Linked DNA regions of Homo sapiens. The protein of the gene in region 3 interacts with the protein of the main gene of each other region in a biochemical or structural test. Each region holds a gene or a part of one and is shown on either strand. Other genes may lie near its edges. The genes, in order: CDKN2B, PPM1B, CDK6 and KIF26B.

Region 1 (5,344 bases), on a different chromosome or scaffold from region 3:
AGGAAGTAGCCCCAACAACATCATAATAGAGAACATTGATAATGAGAGGATAGATAGATTATGCATTTGGGGAGGAGGCCAAATATGAGAAATAAGACATGGTTTACTTACTGTAATTGGTCTTAAAGTTTTGAGTGGAACTCTGTTGTAAAATATTTTCTGTGCCAGAGCTGACTCCATATATCTACTGGAAGTCTAATGCCAGGGGCTTCTGAGTGTGAAGTGGATTAATAGGTGTTTGGGGTCCTTTGTAAACTTCTAGTGTAATGTGAATAGCTGTGAGGTAGTCAGTGTGTCATCTTAATACATTGTTCTTAGTTCTTTTTCCAGCAAACTCTTTTGTTTTACATTTAGTTCACACCACAAATTAGTAAGTCAGGCTTGGTGCTTTTTGACCCATACATTAATTTTCATTACTGTGCTTAATATACAATCCATGCCAATTACATATTATTAATTAGTGGCACTAGTATTAGTTCATATTTTCTTTTATTATGTAATTAATAGGGCCTATATGTGAAAGTTACTGTGTTTCTGTAAAATGAAGTATTCTTTTTCCTTACGCAAGGAATGACATTAAAATCTTCTGAGTAGGGAATTTAAGAGGCAAGAAAGGAGTAATTTCATTTGGATAGCTGAAATTGAGAAACGTTTTATAGAAACTTTTCAGGTATGAAGGATAGTAGTAGAGATGTTACATGAGTTAGCACTCATATATTGAATTAGTTAAGGAACCAATGTGGGAATCTAGGTCTTCTATCTTCCAGTCAAGTCCTTGTTTCACTTTTCTTCATTCCCTCTTTCTTTCCTGTCGTTATAAGTAGAATAGGAAAATATTGAAAGTATTGAGGCTCAACTGTTGTTGCCCCTTTAAGTAATTTCTAAAATTAAAATTGTCTTATTTTCATATATGTGTGATTGTGTATCTAGGTATCTCTTTGTAGCTTAGTAATTGAACACTGTGAACTACACCAACCTAAGCATTATTCTCCAAGTTTTCATCAAATAACTAGACAGTTTCTGTTAATACTGAAAATCTAGTAAACGTGTCAGAATTTGGTTATGATTAGTTGCTGACATAAAACATGAGGGCAGACCTCACTGTACTTTAGAAGATACTGGCTTTCACATTTGCCCCAGTAGGTAGTTCACATGAGTGCTTCTTCAGATAATGTCTCTAAGTTTTGCATATCATTAGTTCTACTTGCTCCACTTTTGATAGAGTGGCAATGTATTGAACATTGTAAAAATTATGCTCTATGATTTAAAAAATCCATCTCTGGTAAAGCATAAAATGAGTATATGTTTTACTGTTTAAAATAATTGAGGGGTAATTATAGAATCAGCAAAAAGAAAAAAAAACCCTACTGACTATTACATATCAATGCACACAGTGTGTTAATATTTTCAAAAAAGGGAGGGCAATCTCAGTGTAAGTGTAAATGAAATTAGTTTTTGTATATATTTGCTGAAGATCAGTTACCTAGCTTCATATGATAAATTATTTGGTGCTGGTCACAATATTGTGCTTGCCATATTAGGGAAATAAAATATCATGAAAGTATTCCTAAGTATACATTTTCCCAGAGGCGTTTGGGGTTTTATCAGTCTCGAGCTCTCCTCTTGAAACTGTTTCATTCCTTAGTTATGAAATTACTAATTTTAACCATTTAAGGCATAGGAAATTTTACATAGATTTTGCTTTAACAGCAAAACACCCTTTAAAAAATTCATCCACTTAGGTGAAAAATAAAAGATAAAAATGAAGCCAAATGAATGTTATTAAATTTATAAATTTATTTAACTTTCCAGATCTTCTTGGAATAAATGTCAGGTAGTAGAATTTGTACAAACCTTGGTAATGTCTTAGGTTTAGATACGAACTTAACAGGTATATTTAATTTTCTGTATTCCACAATGGAGCTAGAAGCAGGACTCATGAAAATAGTAACTATATGTTTTGCATGTATCCTTCAAAGTGAAATCCTTAACAAATTTAACAGTATATATTAGGCTGCTGATGAAACAGCTAAACCTGTCTGCCAGGTGGCTTCGAAAATGGAATTAATTTTTACATGGCATTGATAAGTTACTATTTCAATACAACCAGGTGGTAATTGATACCCAATAATGTTTGAGGTTTGCTTTAAATAAAAAAAACTAACAAAACAAACAAAAAAAACAGTGTAATATAGTACTGTGGGATCCACAATAACATTTTCTTTAGTTTCCCTTAATATCAGGTTGTCATTAGGAAAGATTCCACAAGTTATTTAAACCAGAAATGAAGTAACATGTTTCATATCTATTTCAAGGGATAATTTTTCATGACCCAGTATAATGCAACTAGCAAATTTAAACATCTTGGAATTTAAGATATAGAGGTCAAATTAAGGGATTTTATAAACCAAATGGGAGATTTTAAAGTATCAACTGACTTCTTTTATATAGAATGTTTTCTAATAATTGTAAAATACTGTAACTTTAAAAATATTATTCTTGTAGCCTCTAATGATTGAGTGCTTAAGTGATAACTAGAAATATATTTTCTGTCCCTGTGCTTCAGTTTGAAAATGGAGGTTCCATTATCTTTGTTCCAAAAATTTGGGTTTTTATAGGTGTGTTGGGGGGGGTTATTCTCCATATTGTTGACATTTTAAAATAGTTTTCAAACAAACCGTTTATATTTACTAGAAGTTAGAGAAAGAAAAGCCACCTTAGGAGCTTACAAGGGAGATCATTGTGTATTTCTGCTTTTTTTTAAAAAAAGTTATCTTCATGTGTATCATTCATGATTTTGGAGGACAAGCTGGTGCAATGGGAAGAAAAGCAAGACAACCATAATCAGCTGTGGAACTAGATGCACTTCTTTGTGCATCCATGGAATGAATATCTTGTAACCTTTGGCAAGTTACTTGATATTTCTTTGCCTCATTGTCCTCATCTGGGAAACAATACCTATCTCTCAGGTTTAAATATTAAATTAACAAATATATTTTAATGCATACCTGGTACAGATTATGTGTCAATAAACATATCCTTTCCCCAATAACATATGCTCTGATTCTCAACTAACTTTCCCCAGTAATATGTTCATTTTGGGAATAGGAATTGGTAGAGAAGTAAAGATTTGTGTATTCAACTCAAATGTACTCCTTCTTATAAGTCTCCACTCTCAAATGACTTGTTTCTGTTCCTTTTTTCTCTTTTAAATGTGTATCTGGTAGAATGAGCATTTAGAAGCATAATACATGTATACACTTTGTGTTTAATTTTCTATGGCATAAGTAAGCAGTTTTTATGAATTGCTGGTATTGCTTATGAGCAATTATTACAAACATTGAGAGAAGGGAACCCCTGTGAACCTTTAACATTTCTCAGGAGTTAGTGGTAAACCCATGAACATGTATTTTTAAACCAAATTACCCACCTCTTGGAGTTCAATCTCTGTTAATTCTTTATTAAAGTAGTGAAGTATCAGTTGTTCCAATGATATAATGATCAAGCAACCCTGGAAATTAAATCCCAAAGCAGTGCACCTTTAGTTTGTTCAGTGATAGTAGGACATCCCACGAGCCATCATATATTTTCAAGTTTTTATACTCAATCTACTTTTTCAGCAATCTTTTGGGAACTATCCCAAGATAATTTACTGCATAAGTGCATCTATCTTCTAAAAGACATTTGGAATATTTCTTAGTCTGACCTCTGCACCCTGAGACACTCTATAAAGGAAACAATCAGAAAAATTTAACAAAGAAATAAATAGGTTAAGAAGAAAGCAATCTAGGCGTTTGCACTGAGTTTGCAACAGTGCCATTGCTACATTTAAGAGCTGTAGTTCTTCCTCACATTTTAACTGAGAGCCACTAGTTATGTTACTTAAAATCTCCCCATTAAATAAGACAGTTGCTGAACAACTAAAAAGTACAAAATATCACAAAATCAAAAAGTAGCAAGTCATAAGGGGATTTCCGCATCCTAGCATGTGTGTGTGTGTGTGTGTGTGTGTGTGTGAAAGAAAACGTTACAGTTAACCGTTACAATTGCTCTCACTCCACTCCACCACCTCATCCTGTGTAGTCTGCCTGCGGAACCCGCGGGAATCTCTCCTCAGTGTAGTAAGAGCAAAGGCCAGCATCCTGTGCAAAGGTGCTCTGCAGCGTCGTGATCCAGGGATTTTAGCATCTGTCGTCGCTTGCACATCCTCTCTTACCCCTCTGCTATCTGGTGGAGTTGGGCGAGGGTCTCCAGGGCTTCCAGAGAGTGTCGTTTACGCATGTGACTTGCCATGCGCTCAAACTAAAGCGCCGCCGGGGACTTACTGAAGCCCACCTCGGCCCTCCTCCACTTTGTCCTCAGTCTTCAGGTTTTCCTTTCTGCCGCTAGGGCCTAAGTTGTGGGTTCACCATAACTCCTCAGCAGACATTGGAGTGAACGCATCGACTGCCGTCACCCAAGTGCTAATCACTGCCTTCTCCCACTCAGCGCTGGAGTGGGAGATTCATCCATCGGAAGATTCGTAGCCACCAGGTCCAGTCAAGGATTTCATATGCACTTTCCCTCAGAAAACCCTGAAAAGCAAACGACCCCTGGAATGTCACACACTCCTAAATATCCCTGGAAATCCGCTTCTCTGTGTTTCGCTTCATGGTGAGTGTCGAGGGCCAGATAAGACAAAGAAAAAAATGTATGGAAGGTTATTCCCGGTCGGCTCCTCCTTCCTGTGAGTCTCAGACAGGCTTGCAGGCTTACAGGCTTTCCGCCGCTCCCCGTTGGCAGCCTTCATCGAATTAGGTGGGTGGGGGTGGGAAATTGGGTAAGAAAATAAAGTCGTTGTGGGCGGCTGGGGAACCTGGCGTCAGTCCCCCGTGGCTGTGCGCAGGTACCCTGCAACGTCGCGGTGGCCCCGCTCCTCGGCCAAGTCCACGGGCAGACGACCCCAGGCATCGCGCACGTCCAGCCGCGCCCCGGCCCGGTGCAGCACCACCAGCGTGTCCAGGAAGCCCTCCCGGGCAGCATCATGCACCGGTCGGGTGAGAGTGGCAGGGTCTGCGCAGTTGGGCTCCGCGCCGTGGAGCAGCAGCAGCTCCGCCACGCGGGCGCTGCCCATCATCATGACCTGCCAGAGAGAGCAGAGTGGTCAGAGCCAGGGTGGGGGCAGGTATGGGAGATGCCGGCCGGGGCAAGGCAGGTGGAGCCATTTAAAGAAACACCTAATTGCAAAGTTTTCACCCAGTGCAGAGGTGTTCAGGTCTCTGATGTCTGGTGTTTCTTCATTTGCTGATGCAATCCACTTTCCCACCCCACCTTCAGGTTATACTCAGTACAAATTAAATGCCAT
Region 2 (8,441 bases), on a different chromosome or scaffold from region 3:
CCATATTTATGCCTGTAAGATTTTGTCATTAGGAAAACTAATAGGAAGATGGAAAATTAAAGTCAAAATAAAACACCATTTCTCTCTCCTTAGATTAAAAAAAAGAGAGAGAGAGAGACTCTCAATATCAAACACAGACAAGAACACAGAGCTTTGCTGTTTGGTATAGTAGCCACTAACCACTCGGGGCTAGTAGGAATGTTAAATGAGGCTAATGCTAATAGAGATTTGCTGTAAGTGTAAAATACACAATGGATTTTAAATATTTAATTTATTAGTACTTTTTCACACTGCAGATAAAGACATACCCAAGACTGTGCAATTTACAAAAGAAAGAGAGGTTTAATGGACTTTCAGTTCTATGTGGCCAGGGAGGCCTCATGATCACTGCTGAAGGCAAGGAGAAGCAGGTCACATCTTACATAGATGGCAGCAGGCAAAGAGAGAGCTTGTGTAGGGAAGCTCTCCATTATAAAACCATCAGATCTCATGAGACTTACTCATTATCATGAGAACAGCACAGGAAAGACCTGTCCCCATGATTCAATTACCTCCCATGGGGTCCCTCTCAGAACACCTGGGAATTCAAGATGAGACTTGGGTGGGGACACAGCCCAATCACACCATTTAATATTTTTTAAAAGAATGCAAAATATCTAATTAACTTCATTGTTTATATATTGAATCATTTTGGAAATACTGGATTAAATAAAATACATTACTAAAATTAACTTTGCCTATGTCTTTTTTATTAATGTGGCTACTAGAAAAATTTAAATTACCTTACATTTATATAGGACAGCACTAAATTAAAACAACAGAAACTTTTGGCTGGGCATGGTGGCTCATGCCTGTAATCCCAGCACTTTGGGAGGCCATGGCGGGAGGATCACCTGAGGTCAGGAGTTCAGACCACCCTGGCCAACATGGTGAAACCCCATCTCTACTAAAAATACAAAAAAATTAGCTGGGTGTGGTGGCAGGTGCCTGTAATCCCAGCTACTTCAGGAGGCTGAAACAGGAGTATCGCTTGAACCCAGGAAGTGGAGGTTGCAATGAGCCAAGATTGCATCATTGCACTCCAGCCTGGGTGACAAGAGCGAAACTCTGTCTAAAAAAAAAAATATATATATATATATATATATACATATATAAAATACACCACTGGTAGGAGTATAAATTAGTATAGCAACATTGGAGAGAATTTTGGAAATATCTAGTTAGGGCTATAAGATAAGGATGGCCTACAGTTCAGCCATTTTACTCCCTAGAGAAATTCTCGCATATATATATGGCATGTAAATGGTTTTAGACCATTGATTAAAATTACAAAAATAATCCAAATGTCCTTCCAAAAAAGACTAGACAAAATGTGTTCTAGCTGCCTGTGGTGGCTCACGCCTGTAATCACAACACTTTAGGAGGCCAAAGGAGGTGGATCACTTGAGCTCAGGGATTAGAGGCCAGCCTGGGCAGCATGGTGAAACCTCATCTCTACAAAAAAAACACAAAAATTAGCCAGATGTGTTGGTGCACGCCTGTAGTTCCAGGTATTTGGGAGGCTGAGGTGGGAGGATCACTGGAGCCTGGGAGGGCAAGGCTGCAGTGAGCCAAGATTGAGCCACTGCACTCTTGCCTGAGCAACAGAGCCGGACTGTCTTATTAAAAAAAAAAAAAAAAAAAGAACTGTTCTAATCATACAATGGAATACTATGCAATATATATGCAATACTATGGAAAAAAGGGACTAGAACAAAAAAAGAACTGCAAAAATATTAAGTGACAAGAACAAATTGTAAAAAAAAAAAAAATTCTGTATATGGTCATGTACATACACCTCTTAAAACAGTACTATATGCTATTTAGAAATACATACATGTAGGCCGGGCGCGGTGGCTCATGTCTGTAATCCCAGCACTTTGGGAGGCCGAGGCGGGCAGATCTTGAGGTCAGGAGTTCGAGACCAGCCTGGCCAACATGGTGAGACCCCTGTCTCTACTAAAAATACAAAAATTAGCTGAGCGTGGTGGCACGTGCCTGTAATCTCAGCTACTCACGAGGCTGAGACAGGAGAATTACTTAAAACCTGAAGGCGGAGGCTGCAGTGAGCCGAGATCATGCCACTACACTCCAGCCTGGGCAACAAGAGCAAAACTCCGTCTCAAAAAAAAAAAAAAAAAGGTTATTTCACTTTCACATTGCAATTCCAAACACTCCAGAACAGATGAATAGAAACAAACTCAATTTCCTTAAGTTTAGGACTAGCAACCACCAAAGACTTAATAAAATGTTAGATTATATAAACAAAACCAGTTACAAGAGATAATTTTTTTAAATTCAAGTAAGGTTGTTTTTGGTTATTTTTAAATCTAAGATAGATGGCCAAATGTTGAACAACTTAATGAATCTGGTCTGAATTACAGTACTAAATTTAATATATTCCAAAATTTCAAGTTCTCTTGCATATCAGCATTTTGATAAAGTAACAGAATTACAAAAATACATTAAAAATGAAACTAGGCCGGGCACGGTGGCTCATGCCTGTAATCCCAGCACTTTGGAAGGCTGAGGCGGGCAGATCACCTGAGGTCAGGAGTTTGAGACCAGCTTGGCCAACATGGTGAAACCCCGTCTCTACGAAAAATACAAAATTAGCTGGGCGTGGTGCCGCAGGCCTGTAATCCCAGCTACTTGGGAGGCTGAGGCAGGAGAATCGCTTGAACTGGGAGGTGGCGGCTGCAATGAGCCGAGATTGCACCACTGCACCCCAGCCAGTTGGTTGATTTGCTTTAAAATTAAAAAAATCAATCTTGATTCACTTTAGCAATGAAGATCAAATGAAACTGACTCATAAATGAAAGCACAAGACCACCAAGCATTAAAATAAGAACAAAAAGATGAAAGATCTTTTATGCTTAAGTTTGCAATGTTTGTATAAACTGAAGAAGAGGCCTCTTTACCAAACTGGTTCAGTAGGAAAGCAATAGAAAGAACAGAAAGCAAAAATTAAGCACCTGCTTCACACATCTAAGTGCAATACGCCCATCTCACATGCAGAAAAAACAAAGGCACGACGTTAAGTAATACAACAAAGCTATGGAAGGAGAAGCAGTGATAAATATATAGACCAAGTTGTGCACAATAAACCAAGAGACAAATTGGCTCCATTAGCCATCTTTGCTAAGAGCACAAAAGTAGCCATTACAAATCAGTACCAGGCACTATTGGTCAACCACTAATCCTTCAGCTATACTCACGTAAGAACAGAAAGCTTTTTAAACATAAATGACAACATATATTTTATAGGTATATCCCAATTATTTAAATCAGACTTAAAAAATCCTGTTCACCCTTCTCCTATTGTTCCACCTTTACTCCCATCCTCCTTTCCAGGAACTCATCTATCCAAGGATGTACAGTAAATGGAAACACCTGAAGGCCCCAAATTTCCCTCATGTCTGTCTAATGCAGGGATCTCTTTTTCTCTCTTTGGGTCATCTTTTAATCTTAAACCAGGCAGGGCATGGTGACTCACGCCTGTAATCCCAGCACTTGGGGAGGCCGAGGCAGGTGGATCATGAGGTCAGGAGTTCCAGACCAGCATGACCAACATAGTGAAACCCCATCTCTACTAAAAGTACAAAAATTAGCCAGGTGTGGTGGTGCATGCCTGTGATCCCAGCTACTCGGGAGACTGAGGCAGGAGAATTGTCTGAACCTGGGAGGCGGAGGTTGCAGTGAGCCGAGATCATACCACTGCACTCCAGCCTGGGTGACAGAGTGAGACTCCGTCTCAAAAAAAAAAAAAAAAAATCTCAAACCAATGTCTTTCTCTAAGGCACAACAATATTTCCTCTTTCCTCTTTTCAGTCTAGTTTTTATCCAATTACAGAAAACCTCTTCCTTTCCTTTTGTTAAAAATAGTAAAGCTCTAATCACAGCTTTTAAGTTTAGTGTACAAAACACACACACCCCAAATCTTCCACTCAAGTTTTTAAGCCAGCCACATAAGGAGTTCAGCTGTAATGTAAACTGTGAGTTGCTGGTTAACAGAATGCAAGATCGTCAACGACAAGGATTTGGGATTTTGTCTGTTTTGTTCAGATACTGGCATGAAATGGGGGCCTTTGCACACAGAAGGCACTCAGTGAACATAAGAATTGGCTGGAGGGTTACAGACTAAATACTATTAGACTGTTCTGAATTCTTTACTTCTCAGTGGGTTGGTAGCTCAGAGTAAATAAAAGCAGAAAGCCTCCCAAAGCTCAACAAAATCTCCTATATAATCTTAACATTTGGAGTGCTTTGAATTAATTATGTTCCCCCACCCCCACTTTTGTTTTTTTTGAGACGGAGTCTCACTTTTGCCCAGGCTGGAATGCAGTGGCGCGATTTCAGCTGGGTTGAACCTCCACCTCCTGGGTTCAAGCGATTCTCCTGTCTCAGCCTCCTGAGTAGCTAGGATTACAGGCACATGCCGCCACACCCAGCTAATTTTCTGTATTTTAGTAGAGATGGGGTTTCACCGTGCTGCCAGGCTGGTCTCGAACTCCTGAGCTCAGACAATCCGCCCACCTCGGCCTCCCAAAGTGCTAGGATTATAGGCGTGAGCCACCAGGCCCAGTCATGTCCTCTTTTTAAGGGACTAAGAAAGGCCACCTGTGTTCAACAGAAAATGCCATTTCCCCACCTCAGAGATAAATGCTTTAGTCAGAACAAGGAAAAGGAAAAACACTGCCCAAATAGGTTAAACACCCATGCTGACACTTCTAGATTCTCCTACTCATAAGAACATCCAGTAACCAGCCCTTTTCAATGCGAGGAGTGCTCTTGATACCTACAATCAAGAAAATAAAATGCGATTAGATTTAAAAATGAGTTGACATTACTCTCAGGCTTAAAAGCGCTTCGCAAGCCTTCAAACTCTTACAAATTACTCTACATATTATTGATCAGAACTGCTTCTTCTCTGGCAAACAACACTTATTCATTTGTTTTATTTTCTTGTATATTATACGTTTGAATCTACCTGATAACATAACTGCATTTTAAAAGTTTTCTATAAAAGACAAGGTTTTTTCCTATTTCTAGCACACAAATGTACTTTTCATTCACAACTGATTCTGAAGTGAAGGCCATTCTACGTAGACAATAATCACAGCAATCCTAGAGACAAGTCTTATCCTCCCTATATCACTACCAGTAATTGGTACCATCTCTAAGAGAAAGACAAGTTCCTTAATAGTCAATACATGGCTTCCAAAGTTTGTCTGTCTCCTCTAAGTATGAGATCGGATTTAACTGGATCTTCTTTTGTTCACAAGGATGCAAAACAATTTTCCAAGAAGTGTTATGTTTCTAAACTTTAAGATTTTTAATTTTCAAGAAATGAATCAATTTAAAGCTAAAAAATAGAATACTGATGATACTTAAACATTCTCCAAGAGAAAAGTTTGAATCCATTTTATATTTACAAGTTAATATTAAACTGTGTGATAAATCAAAAGTTTTAAATTAGTAAAGTGTGTTTTAAATGTTATAAACCATGTCAAATGTATAATATATGAACTAACAAATTAAAATACTACAATTGATTAAGCTACAAGGTTCTTGAGGTTAAACAAGTTATTACAAAGAGTATTATTATTTTTGTTTCGAGACAGGGTCTCACTCTTTCGCCCAATCTGGAGTGCAGTGGCGTGATCTTGGCTTACTACAACCTTCACCTCTCGGGTACAAGCAATTCTCCACCACAGCCTCCGGGGTAGCTGGGACTACAGGCATGTGCCACCACACCCGGCTAATTTTTGTATTTTTTGGTAAAGACAGGGTTTCATCATGTTGGCCAGGCTAGTCTCGAACTCCTGACCTCAAGTGATTCACCAACCTCGGGCTCCCAAAGTACTGGGATTACAGGCATGAGCCACTGTGCCCGGCCATGAAGAGTATTATTATAAAAGGTATATGTTATGCCAAGCAATAACAAGATATTGTAGATGTGATTAGTTATAGTAAAACAAAAAGAAAAAAATGTATTTAAGCACTCTTCTGTGTCATGGTTTACCATTAATTCAGAAGTAAAGTGTTTATGGTTGTTATTAAAGTTAAACCAAAGGGGAGAAATAAAGCACCCTGTAATTTGAAGGAAAACTACGAAGTATGAGATCTCGAGGGGCAAAAAAGAAATGAAAAAAGAAAACTAAAAAGAAAAAAAGTATATAAGTTATTGTACAGTATTTATGTTTCCTAGGATGTTATATGTTACTAAAAACTAAATCTCAAAATCTTTAAATACTCTGAGAAATAAATACACTATATAGATTACACTTTTGGAAAATTTTGTAACATCATCAAGAATTTAGTAAAGGGTTCTTTTCACCATAACGCTGATTCCAGTATCTGGTCTGTTAGTCTTTTTTGGCCGGCCAGTACACCTGGCTAAATTCTGTATTTTTAGTAGGGACTGGGTTTTACCACGTTGGCCAGGCCAGGCTGTTCTCAAGTGATCTGCCTGCCTTGGCTTCCCAAAGTGCTGGGATTATGGGCGTGAGCCACCACGCCTGGCCACGCTTGTTAGTCTTCTAGGTAGTCTTTAAGAAAAGGAATATGGATGGAAATGTTCAAAAGTGTCAATCATCTCAAATCAAATGGACACAAAGAGATTAAGTCACATCAGAATTTTTTAAAAAATAGAGGCGTGGTTTCACTCTGTCATCCAGGCTGGAGCAAACTGGTGCAATCACAGCTCGCTGCAGCTTTGACCTCCCTGGCTCAAGCGATCCTCCCACCTCAGCCTCCCAAGCAGCTAACTACAGGTGCACACACCACCAAGCCCAGCTAACTTTATTTTTTGTAGAGACAGGGTCTTGCTATGTTGCCCAGGCTGGTCTCAAACAATCCATCTGCCTCAGCCTCCCAAAATGTTGGGACAGGAGTGAGCCACTGTGCCCGGCCTAGAAACATTTTACTTGTAAAGATTCTAAAATGGCTTTAGCATACTTAAATTAATCCAAAAGATGAAAACCCATTTTTTTAACTCAATGTATTGATGTAAGTAAACACCAACAAAAACAAAGAAAAAATACACATTATGAAGCTCATGTACCTTTTTCTTCACCTGTTCTTGTTAGATCAGCCACTAGAAGCTGATGATCAGTTCTGTCATTCTGCAAATTTTATGACAGCCAACTACAAACTACAAAAATTAAATAGTTCCCAAAACTCTATTTCACCATCAATGTTTGAGTATAGCATAGTGAAATGTCAGTACACTTAACCATCAATTCTGCTAATATACGATACATTTTACAATAAAACTTTAAAGCTGCTAATATAATAGCAGTATTCCATTTCATTCCAATTCTGAAATTAATTCAGCAAGGGAAAAACAAAAAGAAATCAGGTACAGTGTGAAGAATAACTGAAAATTCAGGAATATCATACTCCTGAAAATTATCTTACCATAATCATGATTTCACATTTTATGCTATTACTTGAATAAATTTTGCTATTATAATTTTGGATTAAACAAACTTTTATTATTCTGATGCCACCAGTTATTTGTTTGCTAATTTTTACTAAAATCAGTGAATTGTGAAAGGCATATTTCACAGAAAATATAAAATACTGTATGTTGCATTTTTAAAAGCGAGAGTTAGAATTATACTACTTAACTACTTTCTATGCTAGGTAATGTCACAAAATACTTTAAAATAGTTACATATAAAAATATTCATGAAATACAGCTTTTTTTTTTTTTTTTTTTTTTTGAGACAGAGTCTTACTCTGGCACCCAGGCTAGAGTGCAGTGGCACAATCTCGGCTCACTGCAACCTCCACCTCGTGAGTCCAAGTGATTCTCCTGCCTCATCCTCCTGAGTAGCTGGGATTACAAGCACGCGCCACCGCACCTGGCTAATTTTTGTATTTTCAGTAGAGATGGTGTTTCACCATGTTGGCCAGGCTGGTCATGAACTCCTAACCTCAAGTGATCCACACGCCTCAGCCTCCCAAAGTGCTGAGATTACAGGCATGAGCCACCGCACCTGGCCTATATAGCCTCTTTTTAATGAATCACCACAATCACTAAGTGATACCGTGGCCAATTCTAAGCTTCCAAGACTGCCAAGACATAATCAGCATCATATTTTAATTCAAAAGATTCCATAAAAAATGTTTGTTATAGAAAAGATAACTTTCAACAAGAGCCACTTTTTCTGACCCTGTCAACCTGTGAATCAGCTGTTCTTAGAAGCACAGTTACTTGGACACTACACTATTCCTTCAGATGATGTAATCTTAAGGAATTTAGTAATTAGGTGAATTACTAACATAAAACAGTATTTACTGACATGACTAAATTGAAAGGCCTTTCACCTATTCCTAGAGTCTTCACAGAAATCAGACACCCAGTGTAAGAAAACGGTGTTGAAAGCTCTGCT
Region 3 (8,441 bases):
CCGCGCTCCCGGCACACTCTGGGCTGCTCGGCACGCCCCCTCCCGTTCCACTGCGTCCCGCGCCGCTCGCTCATCCCCGAGGGGCCCCTGCAACCTCTCCGCGCGAAGACGGCTTCAGCCCTGCAGGGAAAGAAAAGTAACTTCGCTTTTCTCGGAGGAACCAGGAAGGATTAAGCGGCTTGGGAGAGGGCAGGAGCGCGCGGAGGGTAGCGATGGAGGCTTCGTAAAGGAGGAGGAGGGGAGTCTGGAGGAACCCCGAGGAAGGCTTCTGGGCTGTCTGATTGCACTTTCTTCTTATCCTCCCGTCTCCTCCTTTAGGTGCAATGATTCTGGACTGAGACGCGCTTGGGCAGAGGCTATGTAATCGTGTCTGTGTTGAGGACTTCGCTTCGAGGAGGGAAGAGGAGGGATCGGCTCGCTCCTCCGGCGGCGGCGGCGGCGGCGACTCTGCAGGCGGAGTTTCGCGGCGGCGGCACCAGGGTTACGCCAGCCCCGCGGGGAGGTCTCTCCATCCAGCTTCTGCAGCGGCGAAAGCCCCAGCGCCCGAGCGCCTGAGCCGGCGGGGAGCAAGTAAAGCTAGACCGATCTCCGGGGAGCCCCGGAGTAGGCGAGCGGCGGCCGCCAGCTAGTTGAGCGCACCCCCCGCCCGCCCCAGCGGCGCCGCGGCGGGCGGCGTCCAGGCGGCATGGAGAAGGACGGCCTGTGCCGCGCTGACCAGCAGTACGAATGCGTGGCGGAGATCGGGGAGGGCGCCTATGGGAAGGTGTTCAAGGCCCGCGACTTGAAGAACGGAGGCCGTTTCGTGGCGTTGAAGCGCGTGCGGGTGCAGACCGGCGAGGAGGGCATGCCGCTCTCCACCATCCGCGAGGTGGCGGTGCTGAGGCACCTGGAGACCTTCGAGCACCCCAACGTGGTCAGGTGAGCCAGGGAGCTGCGCCCTCGCCATCTGGGGCCTCGCGCGCGCGGGGAGGGCCGAGCCGGGAATCCTCAGGCCCAGAAAGGTGCGGGGCAGAGGGCGACTGGGGAGGTCCTGCGCGACCTGTTGGTCTTACAGAGTGAGAGTTAAGTTTTGTCGACAGAGCCGCGAGCCAGAGCCGGTGACCTTGCCAGACAGCGAGCCGAAAGACAAGTCAAAAAAACATGACCTGAGCAGGCTTCCCTGCAGCTGTGCAACTTAGAAGCGTTTTCTCCCTGCCCACCCTGAAGGAGGGTCTGGGGGAAGTGGGTGCGTTTTAGGGACAGGATAAGCCAACCTGAGACATGCCCCGCTAGCCCCCGCATATTTTTCGTGGCCATGCCGTTGGGGAATTTTTGAAAGACAGAGTAGGTGAGACTGGAGAATGAGGATGCCGTGTGATAATCAGTGGGAACTTTATGGGTGGAGCCAAGTGTAAATCAGGTTAACAAGATGCAGAAACATCATAATATTTTTGCCAGTCATACTCTCAGTTTCTCTTTATTAAAGTTGCGTAGTAAGAATGACTCCTGGTGGTCTAAGGAGTTTGAGTGCTGATGCCCAATCTCAAACAGCGTCATAAAAATTTCTTCCAAAACTGTTATCCCTGTGTCTGTTTTACTTTATATCTCTGGGCGGACATACTCTTTAGACTAATTCTCCAAAGGGTTAAATGTGAGTCCAAGATGTGGTATGGTTAGATCATAAATGTTCTGCCCATGCTTTTCCCAGATGGATTGTGCGAGTGGGTGGGGAGACAGCAGTTCTTACTCTCTCCTGTGTGGTAACCAGTATTAAATGAAAATGTGTGACTTAGGATAATGGTGTTTTCTTAGTGATCCTGGAATTTCCCCATTGTGTGGTTGACATTGTTTGGTTGTGTCATCCTTTTCTTTTTTAAACAGAGATGCATAGCTTTACATTGAAAAGGAATGCCTAGAAACTTCTGCAAATTGGGTTGTGATTTTACCTTTCTCGATCTTGAGAAAATGTGTAGCAGAAATATCTTTTTTCTCATCCATTTAGGGCTTCTGTTCAACAAATACATGCCTACTGTGTGCGCTGAGGATGAAATGATGTAAATAAGCACAGCTAAATATTTTTGTAAAAAGTCAAACAATTTAACATTAGTCATCAAAGTGGAGAGACCCAAGACTGACCTTTGAAATACCAAACTCTCTACAGACTCAGAGAGACCAAATATCTACAGAATCTTCTTGGGAGGTTTTAACTTGTCTCCTCTTATCCCAGGCTGGTGATTTGTGCGGTGCTTTGTTCCCAACGCAGTTTAGACTCAAGCTAGAAGGCATCAAAGAATCATAAATATATAAATAAGGCAGTAAATGGTTATAAAGTTAAGACCGCATTATACCTCGGCCTAGCTAGTGAAGGAGAATGAGTGTTTTAGAAGATGAGATTATATATAAAAACCTATAGATGACTTTTTTTCATGTGTATTTTATTTGTTAAAAACAACAAAATCCGTTTTTGGGGCTCTTTGTGATATTGGAGGGAAAAGGGGAGGGTATATTTAGCCCCCTGTAACTCAGCTGTCGTCCTAGGGGAATCACCTAATACATCCCGAAGGATGAATTCCACCACTACAATTTTAAGACGGAAGTTCTTGTTTTATTTTGTCTGTTACCTATGGAGTATCCAGTTAAGGGTGCTTATCATGTATATGAATGAATAGTGTCCTTCCAAACGTAGAGGTACTACAGAGGCACCCCTGTATAACACTATTGTTTACAAAGCTTACGCCATTCTTATACCAGAGGCACACTTTCTGCCATTGTGCTTGTAGATTTTGTCTGATCCATCCTATTCTCTTGATTTATCCTCCTGAGATTGATGTGTTTCTAGACGTTTCTAACTGACCCATGACTTGGATTCTGTACTGTGAATTTCAGGAGGATATTCTTATGAACTGAAGACAAAGGCATTGTTTTCTAAAATTATTTTTACGTGTTAAGGTGATGATGGCACCTACCTGTTAAAGTCGTGAGAATAAAATGAGATGGCGTATGTGAAAGCACTTTGTAAATTTGAAAGTACTTCAGATATCTAAAGGATTGTTTGCGTTTCAGCAGATTGATGGTCTCTTGCCATGGAGCAGCTTCACAGGGAGGGGTCAATTCACCTGACCTTTTTTGTAGAACAAATCATATTCAAACCCAGACATTACAGGCTCTGGAACCAAGAAGATCCTTGAGGATAATTAGCCTGTAAGATGTCAGAAAAGACTCTCAGTCACGAGCCATGAAATTCAGTGATACTTGAGGAAATTATTGATGATGTCACCCTCATGAGCTACAGATCTTCATTCCCTTTTTGTTTCCTTCCTGTTTCTTCTCTTCTGCCTCTGCCTTGAAACAACCATTGGTCCCCATGACTTGCTTGGCCAGACTAAGAATTCTGGATTTTAGAGGCTGCGAATATTTGCTCAGACAGGGTCAGGAAATAAGGACAGTTGACAGCAATTCTTTTCTTTCCAAGGGAGAGTTGTCAAAGTTGGGTCCCCAAACCTGTGATTTACTATTGCCCCTGGGATTAGTTTTACAGTCTTAAGCCTGGTTCTTTAATGGTTTCTTAAAAGGGCAGATGCTTTTATAAGTACCTTCAAGTCATAAGTAATTGATCATAATTATAGGCCCTCCCCCACAGATAGTTAAGCCTCTAAGCTAACAGGAGCATAATAAACATATTAGTTTTTTCAAAAGTTTAAGATTTAATTTTGATGGATTTGCCAGAAAAGCTGACTTGTTATTGCTGGCACTGGTACTGCCTGCATGCACAGGGATAATGACTTGAAATTCTTGCTTACCTGCATTTGATGTATCCCAGGCCCTCGCCTGATCAGCCAGTGAGTGTCTGGGAAGTAAATTTACTCTTTTTTTACATTTGGTAATCCCAAATCCTGGAACCTTTGCCAGAATAGGACTTCACTGTGAACCTGTATTGGAGTTTCTGCACTGCACAAATGGATCCTGTTTGAACAGCCTGAACTAAAAACAATAGAGATAAAATTATAGCATGTTTTGTCAGCAGTCTGTTCATTCACCAAATATTTACTGAGGGTCCACTATGTGCCAGACTCTTCTAGAAGGTGGGGATATAGCAATGAACAAGCCTGGAAAAGTCTCCGCACTTGTAGAACTTGCCTTGTAATGAGATGAGCAGTTCTTTCTTCTCTTTAAAAATTTACTCATCTTTGTTTTAATTGCCTTGTTTTGTTATACTTAACCTAACCAGTTTTATAGAACAACTGATATTTCTGATAATTCGGTTACCAGGAATTTCCTGATTGAGTAGGCAACATAACCAAAAGGCTAATCAGAATCAAGTGCTTTTTGAAGATTAAATTTTACCTCCCTAACATAGGGATTGATCTATATGAGATACTGACACATAGCTAATATAAGTGAACATTTGAGCTCCATTTATTCAAAAAGGATTTAGGAAGGGCATATGCTTTAAAAACCATGGGGCTAGGTGCTGGGAAAGATACCAGGGTAAATCATACCTAGCTACTCTCCTGAAGCAGTTCTTCCCATGTTTGAAGGAATAAGATGATCACCATAACCCTGATACATGATAGGATCATGTGCTGTAAGAAAGATACAAGCCAGTGCTTACCTGTATTGTTTCTAGGGATTATATTTATTAGTGTAACAGTAAAAGCAATTCAAATTCAAGTATTGGCTCTGGAAACTAAAAGTCATTACATATCAGTGAATAAACTTGTGATGTTTAAATATTATAATTAGAATAGTCACTGCTTTAAAAACAAAACAAAAAACCCAAAGAAAAGGCTGTAAAGCTTAATGATTATTCAAGGAGAGTTTTCTAATTTTCTCTCTTTTTTAAAGATCTTAGTAATATATTGCATAAAAGGTGAGTAAAAATGTGATTTTCTCTGGAAAACCTAATTGTTAACAGGGTAAAAGAAACATGACATATTTGACTCTGTAAAGCCAGGTCTTCAATTGGATTAGTTCATGAGAATCCTTCTGAATAAAATTGCTATTTGTGTGGTTGAATAATACATTTACTAGGGCTTTTTTCAATAAAAGCAGGAAAAGCAGGAGTTTAATTCTCCTTTTAAATATCAGTATGTTAAAAGTATGTTTGTTCTTTCTGTCTCTGAGAGTTCCTTGAAAAGTTTCTGATTTTTCAAGGTTGTTTAGTAAATAAACATTTTCACAATGGTATTCTGCTCATTTTTTGTTCCTACAGAAGAACTTGATAATGCTGAATTTTTGACATTGCAGTTATATCCCTTTTATACAACCACTATCAACATAGAATTATTAGAATCTCTCTATGGAATCAAGGACAAAAAAGGTCTATAAGAGGAAAACTTGTATAAACTTGAATATCTTTGAGGATATTTTCCTATGTTTAAGACATGGGTAAATGAATATCTATGCAAATAGGTTCCTATTAAAAATAAATTATTTCTTTTTTAAAAAAACAAATGTCTCACTATTAATGATTTCTTAGGAAAGTTTTTTAAGAAGGAAACACAGCATACATGCAGCCTATCATTGTAAAACCATGGATATTAGGGTTGGAAGACACTCTGGAGGTCAAGCTACTTGTCTGTCATGCCATTTTAAAGTTATTGACTTGTTCTTAAAACTAAGTAGCAATTTTTGTTTGTTTGTTTGATGGAAGCAGTTAAATCGGGTGAGTACATTTCTAGTTTGGAAAAAATGAACTGTATGTAGACAAAAGTGACAGTTTGCCAGGAATGAATGACATAACGATAAATGAATAAAAATTCAGTAAATTCCTGAATTCTGCAGTATGCCATACTGAAGTATATCTCTACAAGAGTATTATTCCAGTAAATTCTTCTTTTAAGGAAGTTGTGCTATAATTATGATAATTTAAATTAATTATAATAATTTAAAATAGCTATAGTTAAATGATGATACAGGTAAATTATGCAGGTAATTCATTAATAATATTGAATTCATTTTAGACAAAGAGGAGTAGGAAAAATTGAAACACTTAGTACTTGTCTGATGAATGAAATATTACATAATGTGGCTCTGGCACATTATGTAACATTCTGGTTAATGAAATAAAAACATCATAATACTTAAAAATTAGATGGCATAATAACCATCAGACACATAAGCAAATATGTGTTTTCCATGCCTTCTGAGGAACTAATCACACTATTGTTCTTTCTCATGAGGTTCAGATGAGTTGCTCTGTCTTCATAGGAAGTAAATTAATTGTGAGCTTCTTGATGTAACAGAACACAGCAGAGATGAAATCTGGGTGTCAGTGAATTGTTAACAGGAGAAGTTAGTGTGTATGATGTTGGGCTTTGTCCAAGATCCAGGAGGCAGCACTGAAAACGCACCGGTGGTTGATAACAAGCATACTTACATGAAGGTCACTATTTGAGTGATGATCCATAGATGCTAGGTTTGGTGGAGCAGGCAGGCCAGCAATCAGAGAGATTTTTCCAAGAGCTGCTGGGTAGTTTTCTTGAATATCACCAGTTTGCTGCCATACCTGATTTTTATTTTACCAGCTGCACATGTAGCTGCTCTTGCCTGAGAGGTGAACCGGAGGGACTGCAAGGCATGTGGCAGGAATCTATGCAAGTGTACAGTTGTAGTCTGGAAGTCCATTTGAGTCAGGATTATTATTAAACATTTTTGACCATCTCCTTTGTCTATAGTAGTTTGCCGAAATTTGGATATCTACTGGCTTTGTAATTTAAGTAGCCACTTAAATTATTCCTATTCTCTGGCCTTCCTAAAGGATTTAGTTCAGTAGAATTAGAATCACAGCATAAGGATTTTTTTAATTGGAAGAAGTCTTAGATTTAACCTAGTGCAACCCCCTTTGATCTGTTTTATAATAATAAAATTTGAGTTGTTTTATGAATGCAAAAAATTATCTCACTGTTAGTGAACAGTTTTATTCTGTGATTGTATGCATTGTAGATATAAACTGATTGAGGATGGCTAAGATTCAGACAGAGGTTTATATTAAACATTGGTAAGACAGGATGACTGATGGTCATTGGATATACCAGAAAAAAATCCCTTGAGATGTAAAAGTATTTTCAGTTTAGTGACTTTATGTTTGCTGACTTGAGAACCAGGATTGTGTATTTTATATCCATAAATAACATGGTGTCCATAACCATTGGTTAACCCGTATATGTTTCCTGATTGATTGAAATTTTAAACCCCTTAGATAAGCACTTTTCATCGTTTTAGAGTTGTATACTGCATTAGCAAGTATCTTGGACTATTGACATTGGGAGATCTGTGGGTATTAACTGTAAGGCATACACATGTGAAGTCTATTTAGTAAGAGTCTTCAAATACTTACTCATATTTAAACTTTTCCTGACTATGCATTTTTTATCTTCAATATTGTACTTGCTTTGGCTTTGACAGGATATTCTCATGTTCTTCCTCTGTATTTGTTAACATGTATCCTACAGACAGATGGACTACTCCATTTGCCCTAATGGATTTCTTGCCATCCACCTCTATTACTTTAATTTGAACAGATCTCTGAATGTGCACTTGGTACCTCTCCTGCACCACTCTCCACCTGTTGAAATTCTGCTTATCCTTCAGGGCCAACCTCAAATGTCACTTTCTTTGTTCTGTATTCCTTAATACCTCGATTTGGATAACATTTCTGCTTCCTTTGAGTCCTGGTAACTTTGGACCTCCTTTATGGCACTTAGCTTGTATCTGTCCCCTTATATTATTTCTGTTATGTAAGATGGAATGTTAACTCCCATGACAGCCCTCTTCTGACTCTCTACTCTTTCACACCCTATTTGTAAGCTCTTTAAGGCAGAGAGTGTCTTGTGATTACATTCGTTTATATCCTGTATCCATTGGATATAAGGTGAATACGTAACAAGTGAGTGAAATCATTGAAAAGGGGTCCAGTTATAAAGGAAGACACCATATGAATTATTTCTATCATGTGAAATAATGTTAATACTAAGGAGTGTCAAGGAGGGAGAACGGATCTGCATATTGGATTACACTTATTGGGATTCCTGGGAAATAATTTAGGAAATACTGAAAAAAGGAAGTTTCATTTTTGTCTTACTCCAATCTACATAGTTTATATGAAAGTTTAAGTATAATTCATTCTTATAGTTAACTGTGCAACTTTGGACTTAATTTATATACTGCAAAGAAGACATTAACATTAGGAAATGAGCATACATTCAGCAAAAGCTGAAAATGATTTGAACATTTCAAATGTAAGAAAGTAAGGTATTATAAATACATTTTGATCAATTGCTTGAGTTCTTTTATTTTTCCCATTAATTTTAATTTCTTTGGCTTTCAATAGTGGAAAACCTGTTAGCAGAATTAGGTAAAACCTTCCTAATAATTTCTATAAAAGATGATGATTCTGAATTTCATTTGAGCCTTGTCTTCTACTCCTCTTCATAATTTGTGTACAGAGAATTTGGATTCCA
Region 4 (8,441 bases), on a different chromosome or scaffold from region 3:
GTTAAATTCAACAAATGCCCACAGACGCTGTGAAACTTAAAATGGGGGAAATGACCACCAGGAGAATTGGTTTTATGAATGCAGAACTTATCTCAAGAATAATGAACTCGTGGATGGTTGTCAGTGTACCGTTTTTGTAGTTTGATACATCTGCCGTGACATCCCAAGGATACATCTCAAGGAATCAAAAAGCTTATTTCGCTCTTGCGTGCTAGACCTTCCGATTTAACACCGTTTCTTCATTCACAGATTTATTTGCTCTCGTGATCCTTCATCAATATTCATTGATTTTCTACTCCATCCGAGGCACTGTGTCAGGCACAGCAATGAAAATACCAGGTCCATTCATGCAGTCCTTGTCCACGTGGAGCTTAGATTCTAGTGGAGGATACAGATAACAACCACAAAATGCACAGTTCACAATGTCTTCACATTTGTGGAGGGAATGTAGGGTGCTGTGAGGTTGTTGAACTGGATGGGAGCATCTGATAAAGATGGAAGGACCTTGGTTCTTAAAGATCTAGTAGCTGATATTTGGCAGTCCTAATACGTTACAGCCTACCAAATTATTTTAGACCTTTCTTGAGGACCTATTCTTATAATAGGCTTATTGTGGCTTTGGGTGTTCCTATATGCAAAGGCCGATCAAAATACACTCTTCTCATTTAAAAAAAGAGGAGGGGAAGGAAAATCTACAGAGGAAACAAATGTTGAAACTCATACGCATCCATCATGTTTTATGGAGTCCTGTGACCAGCTGGAATCTTGTTTTTATAGAAACAGCCTGGAACATTCACTTACAGTGTCACGGGAGGCAGCTCAATATATTTGCCAATTTTATGTATGTGATAAGGTAAAACTCTTGTTGGTAAACTGATTGTATTGTCAGAGTGAGGTGATGGCCCCAGAAGAAACACTGGATTTGCTGAACCCCCATGCTCTACAATGACTTCGAGTGATCCAAGGACATCTAGAGAAGACCTGGCAGTCATGGGGGCAGTCACAGGGGATCACTTTAAGTGCATACGTGAATGTCACATAGTACCACAGTCGCCTGAGTTTTATATGTGAAGCAGCACAGTAAAGCGTGACATTTGGTGCAAGGGCATAGACAGGGCTCAGCCAGGAAGAAGGATGCTTTGCATCAGCTCATTGTTAGTAATGAGATGTGGGGCCTCAATTTTAACTACAAAATTTCTGCAAGCCTTTGTGAATAATAATTGTGTGTGTGTGTGTGTGTGTGTGTGTGTGTGGTGTGTGTTTTAAGCATTTGTACCTTGCATTTAGGTACAATTTCCATTATACCTTTAGCATTTGCAACCTTATAGCCAAACAGTTGCCATGTTCTCTGGTGTACCATGGATGGAGGCCATGTAACTTGGATAAGACTTTTCTTCTTCCCGGAGCAATATTAATGAACAAACTGTGGACCACTGTAGCCCTCAGGCACAGAAGGAGTTAAGTTTCATTAGAACAAGAGGTGTCACTGTGACTCCAACATGCAGTTCGCTCAGTTCGCTCTGAAGAGTAAGAGTCTGGAAGATAAAGACATGTTTTTGAGGAGTAATTAACAAAAATCATCTGTGTAATTTGCTTAAGATGCTTACCTGCATTTGGGAAATATTTTCTTAAATAGAGTGTTAAATTCTACTAGGTGGTATTAAATGTCTCCTAGGTAGATATTTAAAAGTCAAAAGCAGAATAGCACATCCAGGAACCTTAATATTTTAGGATGGATTTGGTTTTGGTTCTTCTTCACCACTGATTTACTTTGTGACATTGGGTAAATTAGTTTTCCTCTCTACTTTTTAACTTTCCTATTAATATCCTAAGGAAAAAAATGAATGAGACTATTAAAACGTCATTAAAATGATCCAAGGTAAGGTCTGAAAAGTGCTTTCATTCTTTAGAGAAAGATATGAGGGTTGATGATTATTAATGAGCTAAGATTCTGTTAGATTTATGTTTTACAGAATTTAAGGTTTTTCTTATAAGATATTACTCCTGTCAGTTTCTAATTTCATCTGTATATTTTCTAAACATGCTGCCATATGAGTTCTCACACTGTGCCTGTTGGTAGGTAGCAAGCCCTATTGAATCCCCCGTTCTGTCTTTGGAACAGTTGGTTAAGGAGGGGAGGTGAAGTAGTAGAGAGCCCATTCCGGGTATCTGGTTGGTTCCAGGAGCTAGTGCCTGGCTCTGGTGGCCTGAGAAGAACCATCTTATTCTGAGCACTCCAATGGAGGATAGGGCTTCATGGTAGAAAATGACATTATTTGAACGTAACGGAGTGGGTGATAGTGTTGGCTGAGGTAGGAAATAGGAGGAGACATGGAATTGGATGGAGCTCAGAGGGAAGGATGATCATGAGTTTGGTTTTCCATGCAGCGAGTCTGAGCTTTCTGGAAAGAGATGGAGGCAGATTTAATAATAAAACACTTTGTTTTTGGCTATCTCAAGACTGGCGTGTAGAAGTGACAGCTGTGAGCTCACATAGCTCTGCTGTTGATACTCTGTATTCATCCTTTCCGATAGCAACTTACCTGGTGAGTAGACGTTTGTGCTTGGTGGCAGATTGTAAAACACTCAGATTGACTTTTATTACCTTGATCAGTACAAAAAGTACTTACTGGGTTTATATCGTTTCTCTTTTGGTGCCGGTGAGTGGAAGTGGTCGGATAAAAGAATGTGGACGTGTAAAGTGTTGAGATTTTAAGTGAGAATGGCCCTTTTACCCACTGTAGCCTTCCAGTGTGTGAATACAAAACCATTTCATGTCCAATGGCAAGAGCATCTTTCCTGCTTTGTACACAGTCAGGGCACTGAGCCAGAAATAGGGGCCAAGGAACGAATTGCTCAATTTTGGGCTAGCCTAGATCATTCTGATATCTGTGACAGAACTTTTGAATGGACTGGGCAAGTCCTACGAAACAACAGCCCAACGAAATTCCCTGGAGTAAGCAGTAAAGCTCCAGGTTGGCAAAAGGTTATCAGACATCTGTTCATTTCCATATCAATAAAAGAAAATCTTTTATGTAAAAAAAAAAAAGTGCAGAACTATGTTCCTATCTGATTGTCTCTCAGTCAGATATTCTGAGTCCATTTATGCCCCAGAAATATCAGGAAGATTAGCCAGACATACTGAGAAGGGTGGCCAGGAATCACAGAGATGAAAGAAAGGAATGCGTCATAGGGGTTAAAAACGCCAAACGTGGACTCTAAATAGCCGGAGACCAAGTAAGTCTAGACTTGAGGAGATATAGATATCCCCACATGCATATTTCTGTATTTTGCCAGCTCCAAAAGAGGGGTATGGAAAAATAACTAGACGCAAAAAGTCCCCCAAAAGCCATCATAAAACATTTTATAGATAGGATAAAACAGACATTGCATTTCGAGTACTTATTAATTATAAGGGACTTCTAGCTGAAATCTTCTCTTTCTTCTAAGAACATGTGGCTATTTTCAAAAAGCTTCATTTGAGTCTTTCTCATATCAGAAGTATTTTAGATAAAGGAGCAGTTAGTAGATAATAGCAGTCATGAAAAAGTCCTACAGCATTTATCATTTGAAAATTTCTGAAACATTTTGGGAGTTTATAAAAACATTCCCAGGAGAGACATGTGAGCAGTAATCTCTTTTTAAGGCTTAGCAAGCTGTGGAATAATGGCAGTTCATTCTACCAGACTATTAATTGTGAAGCAACATGGTCAGTTTTTATAGTGACTTAATTCACTTTGCAAAAATCCCTGGCCTGCAATAATTCCTTCCACACCCATTGCAGATAGGATTACTACATTAGAAATGTGATTTTTAAATGGCTGAGGCTGGTAGTTTGTCAGCATTTGGAAGGATTAAGTCAATTAAAATGGAGGCAACATCAGTTGCCATTTGTTATTTGGCATTATATCACAGATTGTACCATGAGTGGGCCAACAATAGCGATGATAGTAATAATAATAATATGTAATAAATGGCTAACAACGATTGTCCTACATACCACGAACTACACTGAAACACACACACACATAATCTCATATATTAAAATGAAGATGAACGTGATTTTTTCTTTTTTACCCTGGAATTCCAAGTGCTTGATGTGGTTAAGATCATAGAAGGAAGCATGAAGAAAAAATATGCAAGGAACAGAGAAATCCAATCACACTTTCCCCTAGAAGCTGTTAAGGGTCCCTGTGAGTAGAACTGACTGAGTGAGAGGCACCGGCTCGAGATGGTTATTATTTTTCCTGGGCTCACAGATGAGAATTTTACTTCCAGTGAGTGGGGAGGTTGGGGGAAAGTATGTGAGACTGTCAGGTTCTGAGTTGAGGAATTGTCTTGGCTGGAATGCAAGGGGCGGGGGGAAGGAACCTCCTTATATTTACGTGCACCCATTGGAGACCCTGTTGTCATCCCTTCCTGAACAGAAAACCCTGCCCGAGGGCCCCGTCCTGACCTTCTGCGAGGAAGAGTTCTTCAGCCGGCCATTTCAGTGCCCCATCGGCAGGGCGGCCAGACCTCTGCTCTGTTTTGTCCTCAAAAAGATTGCAAATTGGCTGGTGTCTGGGAGGGTTCTTGGTCATTTTGCAGGAATACAAGACAAATTTCCTTTTTACCACTCTCTGCAGTCACAAGCTATTCATCAGCATCCTTTCTTTCCTGTTTCTCGTCTATGGTGTTATTGTGGCGAAGGAGCACTGTTGAGAATGTGCTCCCAATCGCTCTTTTATACCTATAGATGCACCCATCAGAAATATCTTTTTTTTTTTTTTTTTTTTTTTTTTTTGAGACGGAGTCTCGCTCTGTTGCCCAGGCTGGAGTACAGTGGCGTGATCTCGGCTCACTGCAACCTCTGCCTCCTGGATTCAAGCAATTCTCCTGCCTCAGCCTCCCGAGTAGCTGGGACTACAGGCGCCCGCCACCACGCCCAGCTAATTTTTGTATTTTTAGTAGAGATGGGGTTTCACCATATTGGTCAGGCTAGTCTCTATCTCTTGACCTTGTGATCCACCCGCCTTGGCCTCCCAAAGTGCTGGGATTACAGGCAGAAATATCTTATTTTAAAGTACATTCGTGTAGATGCAAAAGGACTGGGGATACACCTGTATTCCTAATGTACTTTTGAAATATTTGTCAAGATATCAACTCAGTTTGTATCCATCATTGGCTTACCATTGCCTTTGGAACTGCTCCAGAGCCTATCTGAGAAAATTGGAAATGAGTGATTGTTAAAAAGATGTTTGTCCACCTCCAGGTCTCAAAGAACTCACCTATGTTTTCTTCTAGTATTTAAATAGTGTCCTTTTTAATATTTAGATCTCTAATCCATTGAGAGATTATTTTGGTGCAAAATGAAAGATATAGATCAAATTTCATCTTTCTCTAAATGTCTATCCAGTTGTCCCCACTTTATTAAAACATTCTTCTTACTTGCAGACTTCTTCTTGTGAAAAAAAGAATTTATCTTTCTCACATTAATTGAAGATACCACCATTGTCATAAATCAAATTTTCAGTTGTATCTGGACCTATTACAGGATCTTCTAGAATGTTCTCACTCTGTTGTCCAGGCTGGGTTACAGTGGCACAATCTCGGCTCACTGCAACCTCCGCCTCCCAAGTTCAAGCAGTTCTCCCGCCTCAGTCTCACAAGTAGCTGGAAATACAGGCACGGACCACCATGCCCAGCTAATTTTTGTATTTTCAGTAGAAATGGGGTTTCACCATGTTGTCCAGGCTGGTCTTGAACTCCTGACCTCAAGTGATCTGCCTGCCTTGGCCTCCCAAAGTGCTGGGATTCCAGGTGTGAGCCACTGCGCTTGGCCCACACTATTTTAATTATGGAAGCTCTGTAGCATGTTTTCATGTTTGGCAGGGCTAGCTCTCTCTCCCTCAAATAGTGCCTTTCTTTTCTAGGAGTTTCCTTGCCTAACTCCAATTTTTTTTTTTGTTAGGACCGTGTTGAATGTATACATTAACCTGGGGGAATAGTTGGCATCTTTATGGTGTTGAATCTTTCCCAAGAACATGGAATACCTTTTCATTTGAACAAGTCTACTTTTTAGCAATTTTTAAGAGTTTCTTCATATAGGCTTTGCACATTTCTTGTTAAACTTTTTCTTAGGTATTATAGCTTTTGTTGCTATTGTAAATGGAGTCTTCACTTTCATTATCTCTTTTAATTGATAATTATTTATGTGAAGGATATTGATCTACATGTTTTATATCCCGTCGCCTTATTAAATTCTACTATATTCACTGATTTTTAAAAAATTGGTACTCTTGGATTTTCAAAAAATTTTGTCTTCTTCAAATACAGATATCATTACTCTCTTCCTTTGCTATTTTTATGCCTCTAAGTGTTTTCTCTTTTTTGTTACATTGGCTGGTACTCCTGACACAATGTTACATAATAGCGATATAGTGGGCATGTGTATATATTTTTTTCTATTAAGATGTTGGCTTTTGGACTGAGATCTGTCTATATTTTTTAAAGTTAAGTAAATATCCATCAATTCCTACTTTAGTGTTTTATTAGGAATGGGTATTATATTTTGCCAAATGTCTTTTCAGTATTTAGAGAGAGAATCATGCAATTTTTCTCCTTAGATTTGTTAATATTGTGAGTTATTATTATTGATTTTCTAATAGTGAACCATCCTTGTATTCCCATAATAAACCCCACTTGGCCACAGTGCATTTTGAAAGATATGCTTCTGGATCCAATTTGCTAATATTTCATTTATTGTTTTTGCTTTGATATTCATATGCCAATGAACATTTTTGATTCCTGTTTATGTGCCAGTTCTAGTACTATGCCACATTATAATCCAAATAGGAAAAATACTAAAATTCCTGCCCTGGAGCAACTCACAGTCTAGTGTCAGAGACAGGCAAGGAACGTGGCGAAGCGTAAGCGTTCCAGCCACAGGAAACGGCAGGCATAGGCCAGGAAGGGGTGATGCGTGCCCCCTACATATGGGGAACTGAAGTCGCACATGGTCACCATACACAGTATTTGTATGAGTGCGTGACAGGCTGGAAAGGAGGCAGATGGAGGATGAAAGGCCTTGTAGGCTATAGGCTGGACTTTATCCTGTAGGACGTGGGCAGCCATTGGAGGGCACTCATGAAGGGAGTGAAATGATCAGATATGCATTTAAGAAAGATTGCTGGCCAGGCACGGTGGCTCACGCCTGTAATCCCAGAACTTTGGGAGGCCAAGACGGGTGGATCACCTGAGGTCAGGAGTTCGAGACCAGCCTGGCCAACATGGTGAAACCCCGTCTCTACTAAAAATACAAAAATTAGCCGGGCGTGGTGGCCCACACCTGTAATCTCAGCTACTCGGGGCTGAGGCAGGAGAATCGCTTGAGCCCGGGAGGCGGAGGTTGTAGTGAGCCAAGATGATGCCACTGCACTCCAGCGTGGGTGACGGTGCGAGACTCCATCTTTAAAAAAAAAATAAAGATTGCTGTGAGAATGAGCAAGAAGATGGGTTGGAAGAGTGGTGTCACCGAGACCAGTTGGGAGGCCCCTTGCAGTGGCTTGAGTGAAGAATGACACAGACTGAACTAGGGTAGTACAGAGGGAAGGGAGAGGCAGCTCCGGCCTGACACATATCATATGTAGAAAACCCGCCATGGGGAGCTGCTGAGATACGGGGCCAGAGGGAGAAAAGATGATGCATTCTCCCAGGTTTCTGGCCAGGGAAAGTGTGTGGGTGGTGCTGCCAGTTATGGAGATGAAGAATACAGGCAGAGAAGGGGTTTTGTTATTGTGAGCCCAGTGTTCGAGGATGGCTGTGGATGTTAAATTGATTGGGGTCTCTAGAGCTTGAGGTGGAATGGTCCAATGGGCTCCTGTTGGCGCTCTAGAGCGGCTTCTGAGGTGGAGATATGGATCTGGGGGATGTCAGCGTAGAGAAGGTGATGGAATCCACAGACGGCATGAGCTCTCCACAGATGTGTGGGGTGAGACGACAGACAGCTGAACATGAAGTGGTGGAGACCATTGACATCGAAGGGACCAGTGGCCTGAGGAGCTAAGAAGACAGACCAAGAAGGAGGGACCAGAAAAGAGGGATGAAAAACCAGGAGAAGACAGTGTCATGGGAACTGAGGAAGGAGTGAGCTTCAGGGCATAGGGGTGACAAAAGGTCTGATGCCCTGGAGAGGTCAAGGAAGTAAGGACTGAGGTTTTCTTTGAACTGGCAAGGAGGAGGTCATTGGATGTCTTTGTTGGAAGAATTTCTGGTGCCCTGGAGAAAGCCAATGGCATTGTGTCCAGGAATAGATTGAGAGGTGAGGACATCTCAGGCAGCATTTGAGTTGCTGAGGACACTGAGATACAAGAGATCCACTTCTTGAGGCTCTTATTATCTTAAAATGAAGAACTACAATCAACAGACTTGCGTGCAAAACCAGGCTCCGTCACTTAGGG

The links.
Region 1: the proteins of CDK6 (region 3) and CDKN2B form a complex in vitro, tested with the Homo sapiens proteins (one study listed by BioGRID).
Region 2: of the proteins of CDK6 (region 3) and PPM1B, one has a biochemical effect on the other in vitro, tested with the Homo sapiens proteins (one study listed by BioGRID).
Region 4: of the proteins of CDK6 (region 3) and KIF26B, one has a biochemical effect on the other in vitro, tested with the Homo sapiens proteins (one study listed by BioGRID).

What each region holds. Positions count from the first base shown.
Region 1 is NC_000009.12:22,001,126-22,006,469, forward strand, and holds the end of CDKN2B (cyclin-dependent kinase 4 inhibitor B), read right to left. Parts: intron 5,123-5,344; coding exon 4,862-5,122; 3' UTR 1,778-4,861; downstream 1-1,777. UniProt on the Homo sapiens protein: Interacts strongly with CDK4 and CDK6. Potent inhibitor. Potential effector of TGF-beta induced cell cycle arrest.
Region 2 is NC_000002.12:44,171,158-44,179,598, reverse strand, and holds part of PPM1B (protein phosphatase 1B), read right to left. Parts: intron 1-8,441.
Region 3 is NC_000007.14:92,825,568-92,834,008, reverse strand, and holds part of CDK6 (cyclin-dependent kinase 6), read left to right. Parts: intron 1-49; exon of another isoform or gene 50-206; intron 207-318; 5' UTR 319-685; coding exon 686-918; intron 919-8,441. UniProt on the Homo sapiens protein: Serine/threonine-protein kinase involved in the control of the cell cycle and differentiation; promotes G1/S transition. Phosphorylates pRB/RB1 and NPM1.
Region 4 is NC_000001.11:245,157,618-245,166,058, forward strand, and holds part of KIF26B (kinesin-like protein KIF26B), read left to right. Parts: intron 1-8,441. UniProt on the Homo sapiens protein: Essential for embryonic kidney development. Plays an important role in the compact adhesion between mesenchymal cells adjacent to the ureteric buds, possibly by interacting with MYH10.